2 separate regions of the Homo sapiens genome follow, and region 2 is linked to region 1. A link means that fine-mapping ties the variant in region 1 to the expression of a gene that starts in the linked region. Tissue or cell type: blood mononuclear cells. Region 1 holds a variant in brackets; the other region holds the start of a gene. All regions are shown on one strand. Distances are from middle to middle.

Region 1 (8,106 bases):
GGCCAACATGGTGAAACCCCATCTCTACTAAAAATACAAAAATTAGCTGGGTGTGGTAGTGCGCACCTGTAATTCCAGCTACTCAAGAGGCTGAGGCAGGAGAATTGCTTAATTGGAACCCAGGAGGTGGAGGTTGCAGTGAGCTGAGATCACACCACTGCACTCCAGCCTGGGCTACAGAGTAAGACTCCCTCTCAAAAAAAAAAAAAAAAAAAAAAAAAAAAAAAGAATAATGGTGAATGCAGCATTTCTTCTAAGAATCTAGAAAAATAAATAAAAATCAACCAAAGGACATACCAATGGTTCCATTAAACCAGAAGTTGAGACTGTCTCCTGGTTATCTTGGGCTCCTCATTGCCAAGTGAACCTACAGGCAAAGAAAGGGGTTAACTGTACTGGCCAGAGTAATCGACCTTGTCTATTAAGGAGAAATTGGGTTCTTATGGCCCAATGTGGGTAAGGAGGAGTATATGTGGAAAGTATGAGATCTCTGGGGGTACCTCTTACAAGCCTTGTGTTCTGTGATTTTAGAATTGCTTATGTTTCACTTTTTGCTAATTTATAAAACATACAGCAGTTTGTTGTACAGGATAAACTCACTGAAAACATTTGACCAGAAGTCTGATAAGAAAAACGGGGAGGGCCATATGCTTAAGATTAGTGGTGTGTACATAAGCATTTTTTTAAATTTTTGTTTGTTTTGAGACAGGGTCTTGCTCTGTGGCCCAGACTGGAGTGCAGTCTTGCAATCATGGCTCACAGCAGCCTCTGCCTCCCGGGCTCAGGTTATCCTCCTACCTCAGCCTCCTGAGTAGATGGGACTACAGGCACATGCCACCATGCCTGCCTAATTTTCAGTATTTTTTTTTGTAGAGACAGGTTTTTACCATGTTGCACAGACTGGTCTCAAACTCCTGGGCTCAAGAGATCCACTTGCTTAGGCCTCCCAAAATGTTGGAATTACAGGTGTGAGCCACTACGCCCAGCCATGAGTGTTTATTTTATTTATGCCTTACATATTCTTTTTTTTTTTTTTTTTTTTTTTAGAGACAGGGTCTTGCTCTATTGTCCAGGCTGGATTCAACCTTGTGGGCTCAAGTGATCCTCCTGCCTCAGCCTCTGGAGTAGCTGGGACTACGGATGCATACCACCACATTCTGCTCATGCCCTATATATTCTTTTGTATGTATGGGTGTAAAAACAGAGATAAAAACAGAGATATGGATGCCATCAACTCACTGATGTTTGAAGTTCTGAGAAAGCATAAATCAGTAAAGGAGTTAACTGAAATTTAAATCTCACAAATGAGCAAAAAATATGATTTCTGGTATATGATCTATGGGGTTCTTTGAATACTATTGCTTAAGAATAAAATACTTTGCGATTTCAATAAATTGAAAATTATGGTACAAGGCAAGGAAGGGGAGCTACTAGCTATGAGACTTTTGTAAATTATGTAACATCTCTGAACCTCTGTTTCCTCATCTGTTAAAATAGGGACAAAGTGCTACTTAGGTAAGACACTTCAGAAATGGGGCTCTGAAAAAAGTCACTTTTCTTCTCCTAACGAAAGGTTTCTAAACCTCAGCACTCCAGACATTTCAGGCCAGGTAATTCTTTGTTGTGCGGCGCTGTCCTGCGCACTGTAAGGCGTGAAGCAGTATTCCCGGCCTCTACTCACCTGTGCCCTCCACCATCTGTAGATTCCAATGACATCTCACCCCAGATGAGAGGCTGAAAATGATTCATACATTGCCAAATGTCTCCTGGGAGGCAAAACTGTTGCAGTGGAGAACCGCTGTCCTAACCCCATGTTCATCCAATAAAGGGTTTGAGGGACTGAGAAATGAAACAATAGTCCCGAAGGAGTAGAATGCAGTGGCCCCAACTCCTAGTTTCATGAAGGCAGGAACTGTGACTCAGAGGCCTGGGGATGCGGAGCTCTGAACTGCCAGCTGGTAGGAAAAGTCCTAATTAATGGATTGAATCATGAAGGGAGGGCAACAAGGAACAAATGGAGAGGGCCAGTGGCCGAGCCTTCGGTCTCAGGATCAAAGAGGCCCACACTGGTCACCACTTACGCTGCTGGGCTGACTGCTAGGTAGACGTATCTGCAGATAAACCGAGACAATGACGCGGTGGGAAAGGCCTTGGGGAGCGAGGAGGAGGAGCCGGGAGAGGCCAGCTTTGGTCCGGCGGCCACCGCCCCAGGCGCCGCGACTCGAGCCTCAGGCCCCGCCCCTCGCCCTCCTGGTCCCGCCCCCGCTCTCCGAGCCCCGCCCCTCGCCCTCCTGGTCCCGCCCCCGCTCTCCGGGCCCCGCCCCTCGCTCTCCGGGCCTGGGCGGGTGGCGCCTTGGCCTCCGCCTCCGCTCGCCTGCGCGCGGCCCTGCGTGAGGGGGCAGAGGCGAGGTGGAGGCGTTGGCGCTGCCACGTCTGGGCCGCGGTTCCCAACTGTGGCGCGGGCGGTGGAGGAGGAGGTGGGGCTGGCGCTGAAGCCGGATCCGGATCCGGTGCTGTGCACACTGGTGGGGGAGAGTCCGACGCGCCTGGCTAGGAGCGCCGACCGCAGGGCCTCTACGGGTGAGGAGGGACCGGGGCCGGGGCGCGAGAGCAGGACCGTGTGTCCTGGGGGCTGGGGCGGGCCTGCCCTCAGGTTTATCTAACAGGTGTGTCTGGTGCCCCGGCCAGGCCCCCGGGGGTGTTGTGTGGAGGAGCTGGGCGTTAATCCTCGCCAGCTGGGTGCACATGGTGTGGAGCGCGGTTCCCAGGAAGTTGAACGCACGCGCGCCTGGAGCAGAGGTTAAGGATGATGGCCAGCGGTCCGGCCATACGCTGGTCTTGGCCTGGCAGGGCTGGAACTGGGACTGGGGTCGGAACTTCGCTCCCCAGACTTTGGCGTGGGAAATGAGACAGTTGGTCGCGCTCTCTGCAGCCATCGGTTTTGAATGGGCACGAACGTCCCAGGCCCCTTCTCTTCTCCCATTCCCGGGCGCATCCCACGGTGGTCGGAGCCATTGAGGCAGCTGCTCCGAAGACCACCTCCGCACCGAGTAGGTCGGCGCTTTCCCCAGGGTACAGAGGGACATTCTTTGTCTCTTTTTCCTAGGCTCCTACCCCTAGAAATACCGAGTACTGTACTGTGATTTCTGTTGCGGGAGCTGATGTTTATGTAAGCCAAACTAATTTAAAATTTTCATACAAAATTGAACGGGCGATTATAGGATTCGTTTTGTTAGGATAATCCCTCATGAACGAATCCTAGAATGGATCTTAAGAAATTAATTTAGGCAGGATTTGCTAAATAGGGGAGAGAGCGCTAGCTGTATGGTATGATGATGTAAAGATTGGGGTCTGTTGAGGATGGTAATCGAGCTCAAGATGCGAAAACGAGGATTCTAGCCCCAAGTCACTTACTTGCTGTGTTACCTAAGGGGCAAGTCTTGGGAGTTCCAGGTGCTCCAGCTTCCTCATCGGTAGACTGGGAATAACGCCTAGATTGTAAAGGTCAAACTATCAGAAAATACTTTTGAACATTCATGCAGTTACACAATTTAATAAATATGGCCAGGTGTGTTAAAAATCTTTAACGGAATAGATTCAGAATGGATTCTTGTTATCGAAATTGTTATAAAATGAATATAAAGGAATCCGAAGTCCGCCCCTCCCCCATTCACCTGTACTTAGAAGGTTCCCCAGGAGCTCTTGAGAAATACATAGGCTGGTTTAGATTTGGCCTTAGATTGTATTTTTTAAAATTTGTAGATCGACTTTTAAAATCTTCATCTCCGGTGTCTATTACTTGTTGCTCTCCGTTGGTTGCTTCTAGCAGCAGCCTCTCTCCCC[A/G]TTCGTATTCCAACCTGATACAGAGGCTCAGACGCCAAATAGTTGAAGTTTTGTTTAAAAAATATTCAATTGAGTGAAAAAATATTCAACTGATGTGATGACTAGTAAAAATGAATTTGGTGTATGCTTTCCGCGATATTGTGGCAGTTTGGGAATTTTTTTTTTTTTTTTTTTTTTTGTCCTTCTGGATTTTCTGAAATGTGACCTACAGGTAAGTCTTATTCGTTATTCATTCACTAGGCATTATTGGGCTAGGGTTAGGCTTAAACGGGTCTTCTAAACGCCTGCTAATTTAGCAGTTAATCAGAAAAGGTTCTGAGGAATACTTAAGGAGGATTAGTGTTTAAAGTTCATCTAAAAACTTTAAAGAACCTAATGATATGATGAGATTCCGCTTCACACAACTGTGCAATTTTATTCGCAGAAATTTCCTAGTTTTGCAATATCTGGGCACCTGAAGATGCTAAAAGATTATTTATATAAAATTACTTATTTAATTATGTTCTAAACCCCCTTGGAACCAGGTTTCAAGTCATATCTTGCTTCACTTTGCCCAGTACCTTAGTTGGGCACCAGCAGAATTTTACGGTTTGAGGACAGAGTGAGCTAAAGTGGGCCTTCAGTATGGCTCTGTTTTGTAGAATAGCTCATAAAAAAATTTTTGATGTTAATTTCTGATTGCCTGGTTAATAGATTCTTATTTCAATCTGTAATGCTTTGTTTAATGTATTTTGACTAGTCTGATTCCCATTTTCCAAATGTAGGTTCTAAGTGCTGCTTATGACTTAATTTTTAACCCTTGTACAACAGTAAGATAGGGAATTTATCTACTCTAGTGCATCTTCAGTGTAATGGTTAAGAGCAGAGTCTGAAGTCATACTACCTAGCAGGACTGGCTACGTAATCTGTGGTAATCCAAATTAAAATGCAGGGTTCCTTGTTAAAAAATTAAGAACTTCAAAACAGTGGCAGCAGGGTATCAAACTTAAGTGCAGGGCCCTGTGTAACGGCACAGGTCAGGGGCTTCTGAAGCTGGCCCTGTTGCCTCATTTTGAATCCTCACTCTGTTCTTATTGGCACTCTAACCTTGAGCAAGTTACTGTGCCTGCTTCCTTATCTGTAAAATTGGGATAATAATGATACATCGTTCATTGTATTTTTAAGAGTTAACATATAGAAAGTTTTCAATAAGTGTTAGCCAATATTATTTATTTTTATGATCATTCGTGGAAAAGGACTGTCTCATCAAAGAAAAGTACAAGAAAATATTAGTATTTCCTGGTTAAAATTCATTATTTAAGGGCTTCATAATCCTAGTTGTTTTCCTGTATACTTCTTCCCTCTCATGAAAATTATTAACCCTATTTTTCATGTTTTCTAGACCACATTTTTATTGTAAACACAGACAACTTTATAGGAAAAAGGAATCTAGTTAAATGTGGTTAAGGTTGATTTAAATTCTCTTTTGAGTTTTCTTTGAACTTTGTATTTACAACTATATGTTTAATAGCAAGACCAAAATGTTTAAATAGTGTGCTGCCTCGAGGAATTTACATTTTTAATACTGTACACATTTCACTTTATTAATACTTAGCCTGTTTATCTACATACCTGAAAAACAATGTTGCTACCTACCATTCAGATGAGATTACACACAAAAACCTCAAGGGTCCAATTTAGACAAAACACTAAAACACGTGGACTCAATTTCATCTATTAAAAACTTGTTTTGGCTGAGCATGCTGGTTCACACTTGTAATTCCAGAACTTTGGGAGGCTGAGGCTGGAGGATCACTTGAGGTCAGGAGTTCAAGACCAGCCTTTCCAACATGGCAAAGCCCCATCTCTACTAAAAATACAAAAATTAGCCAGGCGTGGTGGTATGAGCCTGTAGTCACAACTACTCTGGAGGCTGATGTGGGAAGCTGAGGTAGGAGGATCACTTGAGCCCAGGAGTTTGAGGCTGCAGTGAGCTATGATTGCACCACTGCACTCCAGCCTGGGCAACAGAGTAAAACCCTGTCTCAAAACAATAAAACAAAACAAAAAACCTATTTTGAATGGCTATTAAACTTGTTAAATTTGAAATGACTGCTTGATCATCACAATTTCTATATTTTCCTTAATATTGTTAGAACTGGGTATAGTGTATGCAGCATAATTTGAATCATTTTGTGTGTGTGTGGCTGGGGGGACCTCTCAGCAGTCTACATTATAAACTACGTTCTTTTCTACCCAAGAATGCTAACTTTTGGTATAACATAAACGTAAGAGCCTGTCATTCTTTTTGTAGTTCCTGTAACCAGCACAGTGCCTGATTCATGAATTAAAGGTAAAAAAAAATGAACAAGAATTTATAAACTTTAATTTTAAATTTATTGCTAACTAGCATATATCTTATTAAGTACTTGCAGTATTCCAGGCACTGCTAAGTGCATGACTGCATACAGTAATGCATTTAATTCTCCCAGTAATTTCATCTCCATTTTACAAATGAGGAAACTAGATTCTAAAAGCTTAATTACCGTAGTACATATCACACAGTTGACATTTGAACACCAGGTATGAATCCAAAGCTCATGCTCTTTCTATGCCTAGGTTTAAATCCTGGCTCCGCTAATTTTGTGACCTTGGGCAAGTTACTTAACATTTTCTCATCTGTTAAAATGTAGATAATAACCACTCCTAACCTGTAGGATGGTTGAAATAAATGAATTAGTAAAGCTCTTTCAACAGTCTGGCACATAAGAAGTGCTGAGCAAGTGTTAACTTCTGTTGTTACATCACATCACACTACCTTCCCATAACTAGTATATTGCAGCATTGCTTATATAGTTACATAGGATTATACAGGCAGAAACTTATTATCCATCTTTAAGGAAAAGTTAAGAATATTTGCCCTAAAGCATACTGTGACTTATGAAATAAGGAACAATTGGGGGTTAGGTTATTGGGCAAATTGTTCTCTCATTAAAATATGGTTTCTTTAACTGGATATAGAAATAAGTTGGGGACTGCTTTTTTTGGATCTCTAATCCAAAAATCCAAAACACTCCAAAATTTGAAACTTTATTGAGGGCCAACATGATGCCACAAGTGGAAAATTCCACATCTGGTATAATGTACAAAAACTTTTCCATGCACAAAATTATTTAAAATATTGTGTAAAATATTTGTGCTATCTGTATAAGATGTATATGAAACACAAATGAATTTTGACTTGGGTCCCATCCCCAAGATATCTCATTATGTATATGCAAATATCCCCAAATCTGAAAAAAAAAAAAAAAAAAAAAAAAAAAAAAAATCCAAAACCTGAAACATTTCTGGTCCCAAGCATTTTGGATAAGGAATACTCAACTTTTAATTGTTGGGAAGCATCTGTTTCTTTTAGCAATTCTGTGCTGCACAGAAGCCCCCTGGCCCCAGTTTTATGCTTTGTATGATTTGTTTTTCATCCTTCCTATCGTTACTTCTCTGTTATTTAGTCTCAGTTTTAAAACATTACAACTAGTGAGAACCTGCTCATTTCTAAATGTTCAAAAAAGAGGGGGAAATATCATGATCACTTTTCAATAGCATGAAAAACACCAGCTATTTTTAAGCTGCTTAGATGCAACTGAGAAACACTATACAGTTTAATTTTAATTTAATTTTTTTGAGACGGAGTTTCACTCTTGTTGCCCAGGCTGGAACGCAATGGTGTGATCTCAGCTCACTGCAGCCTCCACCTCCTGGGTTCAAGTGATTCTCCTGCCTCAGCCTCCCAAGTAGCTGGGATTACAGGTGGCCACCACCACACCTGGCTAATTTTGTATTTGTAGTAGAGACAGGGTTTCGCCATGTTGGTCAGGCCGGTCTTGACCTCCTGACCTCTGGTGATCTACCTGCCTCTGCCTCTCAAAGTGCTGGGATTAAAGGCACGAGCCACCATGCCTGGTCCATACCACAGATTTTTAGAAAATCTGCTGTGAAAACAAAATCCTGCAGTGTATATCTAGCATAGCCAAGGTAAAGTATTTCTGAGAATGCCAAAAAAAAAAATTAATTTGAGCCTGTTCATCAATTTTCTTCTATTCATGGTTCATTGAAAAAAAAAAAAAAAGCTACATGTGGCTAGACATGGTGGCTCACACCTGTAATCCCAGCACTTTGGGAGGCTGAGGCAGGCGAATCACCCGAGGTCAGGAATTTGAGACCAGCCTGGCTGACATGGCGAAACTCCGTCTCTACTAAAAATACAAAAAAAACTAGCTGGGCGTG
Region 2 (8,106 bases), 59 kb after region 1:
CTCACTGCAAGCTCCGCCTCCCGGGTTCATGCCATTCTCCTGCCTCAGCCTCCCAAGTAGCTGGGACTACAGGCGCCCGCCACCATACCTGGCTAATTTTTTTTTAAGTAGAGACGGGGTTTTACCGTGTTAGCCAGGATGGTCTTGATCTCCTGACCTCGTGATCCGTCCGCCTCGGCCTCCCAAAGTGCTGGGATTACAGGCGTGAGCCACCACGCCCGGCCGGATTTAATTACTTCTTCTTTTTCTTAAATTCGTTTTTGTTGCTTGCAACCAAAAGATACCAAACATGCAATATTAAGAAATACGGAACGAATTGGCTTTCAGCAGACAATACTTGCATCATTATCCACTAGCTTTAACCATTACCTCTGTCCCTGTGATATAATATGAAATACATGGTCTTTCTCTCCAGTTCCTGTCACAGTCCTCCTAAAACTCTTGGAATTTTCTAATAGGAGTGTCTTTGGTTATTTATGAGCCACTATTTTTGATCAAACCTGATTATGCTAATGAAGTGATTTAGGGTGGGGCCAGTCACCAGAAAGACCATGTGACAAGAGGGTTGAACTCTCAGCCTCACACACACACACACCTCTATGGGAGGGGATGGAGATGAAGTTCTATAAAAACCGTTGAATAAGATTTGTTGAGCTTCTGGATGAAAACACTGGAGGTGCTAGTGAGGCAGGTGAATAGGGTCTGGAGGCAGGGAATCTAAGGCTGTTTCACCCCGACTTCCCAGAACTAACTTGAAGGGAAAACCCTAACTTTCCACGCCTAAGTAACAAAAGGACCAGAGGCTACTCCCGTTGCAAACCACCTACCTTTTCTGCACAGTAGACGGGAAATTGGCTGTCCTCAACAAATCAGACTGACTGCGGGTGGAATCTTCGTTTGCAACTTTGTAACTTCACTCTAGCCACTGAATGGTCGCTGTCCACAACCAAGCGGACTGATGTGGGGGTGGGTCTGGCAACCAATCAGACCAATTGCAAGCCACCTCTTCATTTACATGAGGTGAGCATGGAATGGCCAATGGGAAAGTTCTAGGGGGTATTTGGACCCAAGAAGATTCGGTAAAGCAGCGGGGGTCGGGGGGGAGTGCTGCTAGGGCAGCTCCCACACTGTGGAGTGTACTTTTGTTTTCAATAAATCCCTGCTTTTGTTCTTTTGTTGCTTCATTCTTTCTTTGCTTGGAGTTTTGTCCAATTCTTTGTTCAAAACGCCAAGAACCTGGACAGCTTGCAATCATGACTCTACTGGTGACACTGGGATGGTGGTGTGCCCCTTCCCCCATACCTTGCCCTATTCATCTCTTCCTACTGGCTGTTCACTGATCTTTTGTAGTATCCTTTATAATAAACCCGTAAATGTACTTCCCTGAGTCCTGTAAGTCACTCTAGCAAGTTAACTGAACCAAGGAGGGAGTAACGGGAACCCTGATTTACAGTCAGTCAGGAGTGTATAGGTGACAACCTACTACTTGTGATTACCATCTGAGGTTGGGGGCAGCCTTGCGGGACTGAGCCATTAACCTGTGGGATCTGACTAACTTCAGGTACATATGTGTCAGAATTGAATTATGGGACATTCAGTTCATGCCTGCTGGAAAACTGCTTGGTATGGAAAAACCCCCACACATCTGGTAGCATAAAAAAAAGAGTGTGTTTTCAAGTCCCACACAGAAAAGACAGGTATATATTCCCAGCAAGAATTTATCAGTTTTGCAGGAATAAGGCATACATAATGATATACACAGTAACAGATTAAATGCAAAGTCCGGGAAAATTTTAAACTAGAATTTTTAAGATTAGGGCAGGGAAGAATTGAAGTGTATTAAAAAGAACAATGAATTAGGAGGCCGAGGTCCTTCTGTGTCTTGTGCTACTGTGTTGTTAATTTGGCACATCACTTATTTTCAGTAAGGTACAATTTCTTCACCTGGAATGTGGGACTCCTCTACATTATTTGTAAGGTTGCTTGCAGTTAAGTGCTGAAATTACTGAATCATTTTGAGGATATGAAAGCATACTCCTTCGCGGTGGCTCAAGCCTGTAATCCCAGCACTTTGGGAGGCCGAGGCAGGCGGATCACTTGAGGTCTGGCGTTCCAGACCAGCAGGGCCAACATGGTGAAACCCCGTCTCTACTAAAAGTACAAAAATTAGACGGGAGTGGTGGCGGGCGCCTGTAATCCCAGCTACTCAGGCGGCTGAGGCAGGAGAATCTTTTGAACGTGGGAGGCGGAGGTTGCAGTGAGCGGAGATCACGCCACTGCATTCCAGCCTGGGCAACAAGAGTGAAACTCCGTCTCAAAAAAATAAATAAATAAATAAAAGCATACTCTTCATTCACATTATTGTATGTTAAGTATAAATTCATTTTTATAACTAGCCTAAATATGACCTCCTGTTTTCTAAGAGTATATTGGCCGGGCGCGGTAGCTCACGCCTGTAATCCCTGCACTTTGGGAGGCCAAGCCAGGCGGATCACAAGGTCAGGAGTTTGAGACCATCCTGGCCAACATGGTGAAACCCCGTCTCTACTAAAAATACAAAAAAATTAGCCCGGTGTGGTAGCGGGTGCCTGCAGTCCCAGCTACTCGGGAGGCTGAGGCGGGAGAATGGCGTGAACACGGGAGGCAGAGCTTGCAGTGAGCCCAGATCGCACCACTGCAAGATCATTCCAGCCTGGGCGACAGAGTGAGACTCTGTCTCAAAAAAAAAAAAAAAAAAGCTGGGCCTGGCGGTGCGCGCCTGTAATCCCCAGCTACTCAGGAGGCTTAGGCAGGAGAACTGTTTGAACCGGGACCCGAGGCAGAGGCTGCGGTGGGCTGAGACAGCGCCACTGCACTCCAGCCTGGGGCAACAAGAGTGAAACTCTGTGTCAAAAAAAAAAAAAAAAAAAAAACCATGAGTATATTCTTGGGCCAGGTGCAGTGGCTCACACCTGTAATCCCAACACTTTCGGAGGACAAGGCGGGAGGATCTTGAGGCCAAGAGTTCGAGACCAGCCTGGAGAAAAAACCCATCGCTACAAAAAAAAAAAAAAAGAAAAATTAGCCCGGCATGGTCCCAGCTACTCCAGAGGCTGAGGTGAAAGGATGGCTTGAGCATGGGAGTTCGAGACTGCAGTGAACCGAGATCACACCACTGCACTACATTTTGCAACAGTGATAGTCACAAACAAAGTCTCTACTCTTAAAACAAATGTAATTGTCAAGCATCAATACCACAAGAGAGCCCTCCAAACAAAAATGTGAACCTAGGCCGGGCGCGGTGGCTCATACCTGCAATTTCAGCACTTTGGGAGGCCGAGTCGGGCGGATCACAAGGTCAGGAGATCGAGACCACCCTGGCCAAAATGGTGAAACCCGTCTCCCCTAAAAACACAAAAATTAGCTGGGCGTGGTGGTGCGCGCCTGTAGTTCCAGCTACTCAGGAGGCTGAGGCAGGAGAATCGCTTGAACCCGGAAGGCGGAGGTTGCAGTGAGCCGAGATCGCGCCACATTGCACTCCAGCCTGGCGACAGAGCAAGACTCCGTCTCAAAAAAAAAAAAAAAAAAAAAGTGAACCTCCAATGAAGATATTCAATAGAATAAATATTCGGAATAAATTGAATGGTCTCCTAAAAATAGGGCTTTATTTTTCCCAACTACTTTAAAGGTATTTTTAACTAGCGATGTTAGATTTTCTTTCTTAATCCTACTAAAGTATAGCTGAGTATCTTCGTCTTGTTAATTTAGCCTCCAGAAAATTCTAATTTAGTAGTCTGCAATGCCGTAAAATGTTAAACTAGCAACAGATGAAAAAAAATCCGAGTAGAAACAGCAGGCAGGGATCTAAGGTGGAGTAAAAATAGCCACAAATTAGAAACCAGGAGAAAAGGTATATAGTATTTTACTTTCAATATTAATTTTCCTCCAAAGGTCAAGATTTCTGATTAAGAGTTCTCAGATTAAGATGAGCTAGCTTTGAGACACTTTGTTGTGCGGGTCATAGCTTTGTCTAAAAACAAACAAAAAACTTTGGGAAACTTTTCGAAGGCGCGCTTCCAAACTTCAGGCGCCGAGTCTATTTCACATGTGGGGCCATGTGTCCCACAAGTGAATCGTTTACACCACAGATATTCCTCAAAAGGAGACTAAACCAACTTCGCTCTCTTGTTACTTTGACAATAAAAGAGGAACCTTACTCCAGGTCAGTCCTGGATGCCAAGCCTAGGGACTAAGGGATTGCTTTTCCTCTTCTCAAATGTAAGTACACCAGACGCTGCCCCTCCGCGGGGTCTGGAGAGGACGAGCAACTCAGTGGGGATTGGAGCCGACCGCTCGGCTTCAGAGGTCCCGGGACGCCCTTAGGAGGCAGGGCGCCCGTACAGGTGGCGGCTAAGACGGTTGGGGACTGGGGTCGCCCCTCGGCCGGAGCCACAGGGAGAGGCCTGTGCGTGGCAGCCACGGGAGCGACTCACCTCGGCGTCTTCCTTGCACTGTGGAAGGGAAGGGAACTCCAGCTTCACGTCCTCCATGGTGCTGGCCCGCGGGCTGGTGGGTGGGGTGGGAGAGTGTTACACAGCCGGCCGACCCTCGGGCTGGCTGCGGCGGCGGAAGGAAGGAGGGCCGGCGGAGCGGAGGGCTGACAGGAGGGCGGCGGGATTACAACTAACACACGCAGACTACAGGGTCCCAGTGACTCCAGCAGCGGCGGCGGCGAAGACAGGGAAGAGGAGGGTCGGGCGTCTTACACCCGGCCGCCATGCCGCTGCCGTCTCCCTCCCCCAGAGTCTCCGTACCCCTCAGGCCGCCCAGGATCCAGCACAGGAACCAGCCCGACAACCGTCTCCCCGCCTCCTTCCCGCCCCCTCCACCCGCGTCGCCTCAGCCAATCCCAGCCCACGCTCGCCTTCTGCCCGCCCTCCGCCGCCGCCAGGTGTCAGCGCGCCACCGCCCTGCTCCGCCCCTTCGCTAGAGCGCAGACGCTTGGGGGTGGGGGGGGCGGAGCCTCGGATGCTGCTAGGCCACAGCTCACCCGGCGTGGAGGAGGCGGGGCTGCGGTGGGACAGGACGAGTGAAGGTCCTGGGAAAGGCAGTGGGGCGGTCCGAGCCAGCTCCGCCCTTTCCAGACAGGACGTAGAGCCCTTCTTTAACATAAGAACAAACAGGCAAAACAGGCTACCCACCAGTGGCATCCGAAAGGAAAGCTATAGTTTCTCCCCTCTCAAAATTCTGCGCAATCTATGCTGAGTTTATAACCAAATGACTAATAAATGAAGAGTTCAATTTAAAATCACGTGGTGCCATACAGAAAATAAAATACCCATCACCTTTAAGCAAAGAATTAAACGGCTCAATTTAAAATTTTTTAAAGTATTTTAAGAGTACTTGAAAATACAACTCAGTTTAGATTACCTAGAAAATATCAAGAATGGCAACTAGAAAAAAATCAGAAAAAGGAACTGATAGCTGACTCAGTAAATTGTATATAATACTGTAAAATTTCTTCCATTATTATATTTTGAAATAAAAATAATAAACCAGATGGCTTTCAATATCTTTTAAAAGGAGTTTGCCAGCCTGAGCAAAATAGTAAGACCCCCCTCTCTAAAAAACAATTTTAAAATTCCCTGGGTGTGGTGGCGTTATGCCTGTAAACCCATGGTGAAAAGATTTGGGCCGGGCGCGGAGGCTCACGCCTGTAATCCCAGCACTTTGGGCGGCTGAGGCGTGTGGATCACCTGAGGTCGGGAGTTTGAGACCAGCCTGACCAACATGGAGAAACCCCGTCTCTACTAAAAATACAAAAATTAGCTGGGTGTGGTGGCGCATGCCAGTAATCGCAGCTACTTAGAAGGCTGAGGCAGGAGAACCGCTTAAATCCGGGAGGCGGAGGTTGCAATGAGCTGAGATAGTGCAATGGCACTACAGCCTGGGCAACAAGAGCGAAACTCCATCTCAAAAAAAATCAAAAATAAAAAAAGAAAGAAAGGATTTGTACACCAAATTGATTCTTTAAAAAACCACCGCCAGCACAAAGGTAAAAGGCAAGATAGTCACTCCTTAACTAAATGCAAATTATAAGTGAAAAGATCACATAGATATTTGACTTAAACCTCCCCCTACATTCTACTTTTTGTCACATAAAATGCACTGCCAACACATAGAAATAGAACTGTACAATAATTTGAGTATGAGATGGCTAACTTGACCACTCCATTTTCTATTTTAACTGTTCATCTTCTAAAATTATAAAAAGGCACATAATATCCTGCTAGGAAGTTTTTAATTTGAAGAATTATTGTATAATTAGCTAGGTCATGTATTTTTGGTTCTTTAGTGTTTATGAAACTGAAGTTGTCTTTTCTTTTCACCAGCATCTTTAATAATTATTGATGCCCAATGATGATTCCTTTGTGTACTTTGTTATAGCTTTTATTGCCAGATGATATAAGAATCATGTATAGGTAACAGAAATCATGTTTTGAACATTTCTGACACTCCTACATCCCCTACATCATACACTCTTAGCCAGGTATCCATACATACCTAAAGAGTCCTTGGATGAGCTTGGGAAACAATAAATTTCCTGAAATTATAGTATACGCAAAATTGTATGTTAGAATTTTTCCTGGAAGAGGGTCCAGACCTCCACATCCTCAACAGGGACCTATCGTCTTACATAAACCAAGAAAACCCAGTCACATATTAGCAAATATTACGTTGAATCATACTCTTTAAAAAGTTATGGATGTGCATGTATATTTTCAATTAACCAACAATGAGCTTAATCACAGTAGATGAAGAATATGTAAACACTTTCTGAAAGGAGGAGTACAGACATACCCACACATCCATGTTTTATTTAAGAAGATGATCTTATGAACATTAAGTATGTGTACTATTTTAAAATAATATTCAAAAATCCACAATCCATCTGGGTTATCAAATAGTTTACTTGCTAAAGAACCTAAAGGACCACAGTAAATATACTCAGAAAAGACAAGAATATATATGTAGGAGAACTGAATCAAACAGATTTTATTCAACTTTTTAGATGAGGAAAACAAATGATACAAAATAAGTCATAAGAAATGCTTTCTTATACCACTATCTCAAACCACTTTCAATATTTTACAAAATGCTCACGCAGCAAATATGAAAAGCTTCAACACTTTCCCTTTGTAACTTGCTGCAATAAATGCAACTTTAACAAACATACAAATTTCTTCTGTATCTTAAAAGTTGAATTACTAATTTTTATGATGTTACTCATATTTTTATTCATATACTTTTAATGACATCATTACCAATACATACATTATTTTCTTTAACTTTATTTTTACAATAAGCCAACATCTGTCATGCAGCCATCAAAAATCTTACAGTAAATTACACAGGTTTGTAGTCCAATTTAGACTCCAGCTTCTTAGAATCAGCCACTTTTCTGACTGCTTTCATGAAGTCTTCCTGTACTACAAAATCATGATCAGCACGAATTGCGAACATACCTGTAGAGAATAAAACAACATGACTGCTATATATCACATATGAATTATATGTTCATTATAAGAAAAACAATATAATTCTATGGAATAAATGTGAAGCTTAGATTTATTACTTCTGAGCCAGTAGTTGTAATTTGCTAAAAACCACTATCTTTTTTCAATTAAAATCCACAGGCCGGGTGCGGTGGCTCACGCCTGTAATCCCAACACTTTGGGAGGCCAAGATGGGCAGATTGCAATGTCAAGAGATTAAGACCATCCTGGCCAACACGGTGAAACCCCATCTCTACTAAAAATACAAAAAAAAAAAAAAATTAGCTGGGCATGGTGGCGCGCGCCTGTAGTCCCAGCTACTCGGGAGGCTAAGGCAGGAGAATGGCTTGAACCCAGGAGGCGGAGGTTGCAGTGAGCTGAGATAGTGGCACTGCACTCCAGCCTGGCAACAGAGCGAGACCCCATCTCAAAAAAAAAAAAAAAAAAAAATCCATAGCGGTGTTGTGATTATGTTCTAAAACAAAAACAGGTATGACCATTATATGAATATTTAACATCCGGTTCAAGGCTGGGCACGGTGGCTCACACCTGTAATCCCAACACTTTGGGA

The links. PIP is the estimated chance that this variant, and not a neighbour inherited with it, causes the effect.
Region 2: it holds the start of STYX, and the variant in region 1 is fine-mapped to the expression of STYX in blood mononuclear cells (TOPMed, PIP 0.93).

Annotation. Positions count from the first base shown.
Region 1 is chr14:52,785,902-52,794,007 of GRCh38, reverse strand. It overlaps GNPNAT1 (glucosamine-phosphate N-acetyltransferase 1), which reads left to right and starts at 2,401. Exons shown (of 6, transcript NM_198066.4): 1 at 2,401-2,580. LOC105370500 (a long non-coding RNA gene) reads right to left here and starts at 2,220. Exons shown (of 3, transcript XR_943867.3): 1 at 1,682-2,220. RefSeq lists enhancers at 1,779-2,293, 2,294-2,807, 2,915-3,004, 3,085-3,174 and silencers at 2,205-2,424, 2,525-2,604. The variant A/G (reference allele first, on the strand shown) is at 3,844.
Region 2 is chr14:52,726,898-52,735,003 of GRCh38, reverse strand. STYX (serine/threonine/tyrosine interacting protein) reads right to left here and starts at 4,838. Exons shown (of 11, transcript NM_145251.4): 1 at 4,473-4,838. The coding sequence starts at 4,529. It overlaps PSMC6 (proteasome 26S subunit, ATPase 6), which reads right to left. Exons shown (of 14, transcript NM_002806.5): 14 at 6,414-7,505. The coding sequence ends at 7,387. RefSeq lists an enhancer at 799-1,093 and silencers at 4,544-4,623, 4,694-5,153.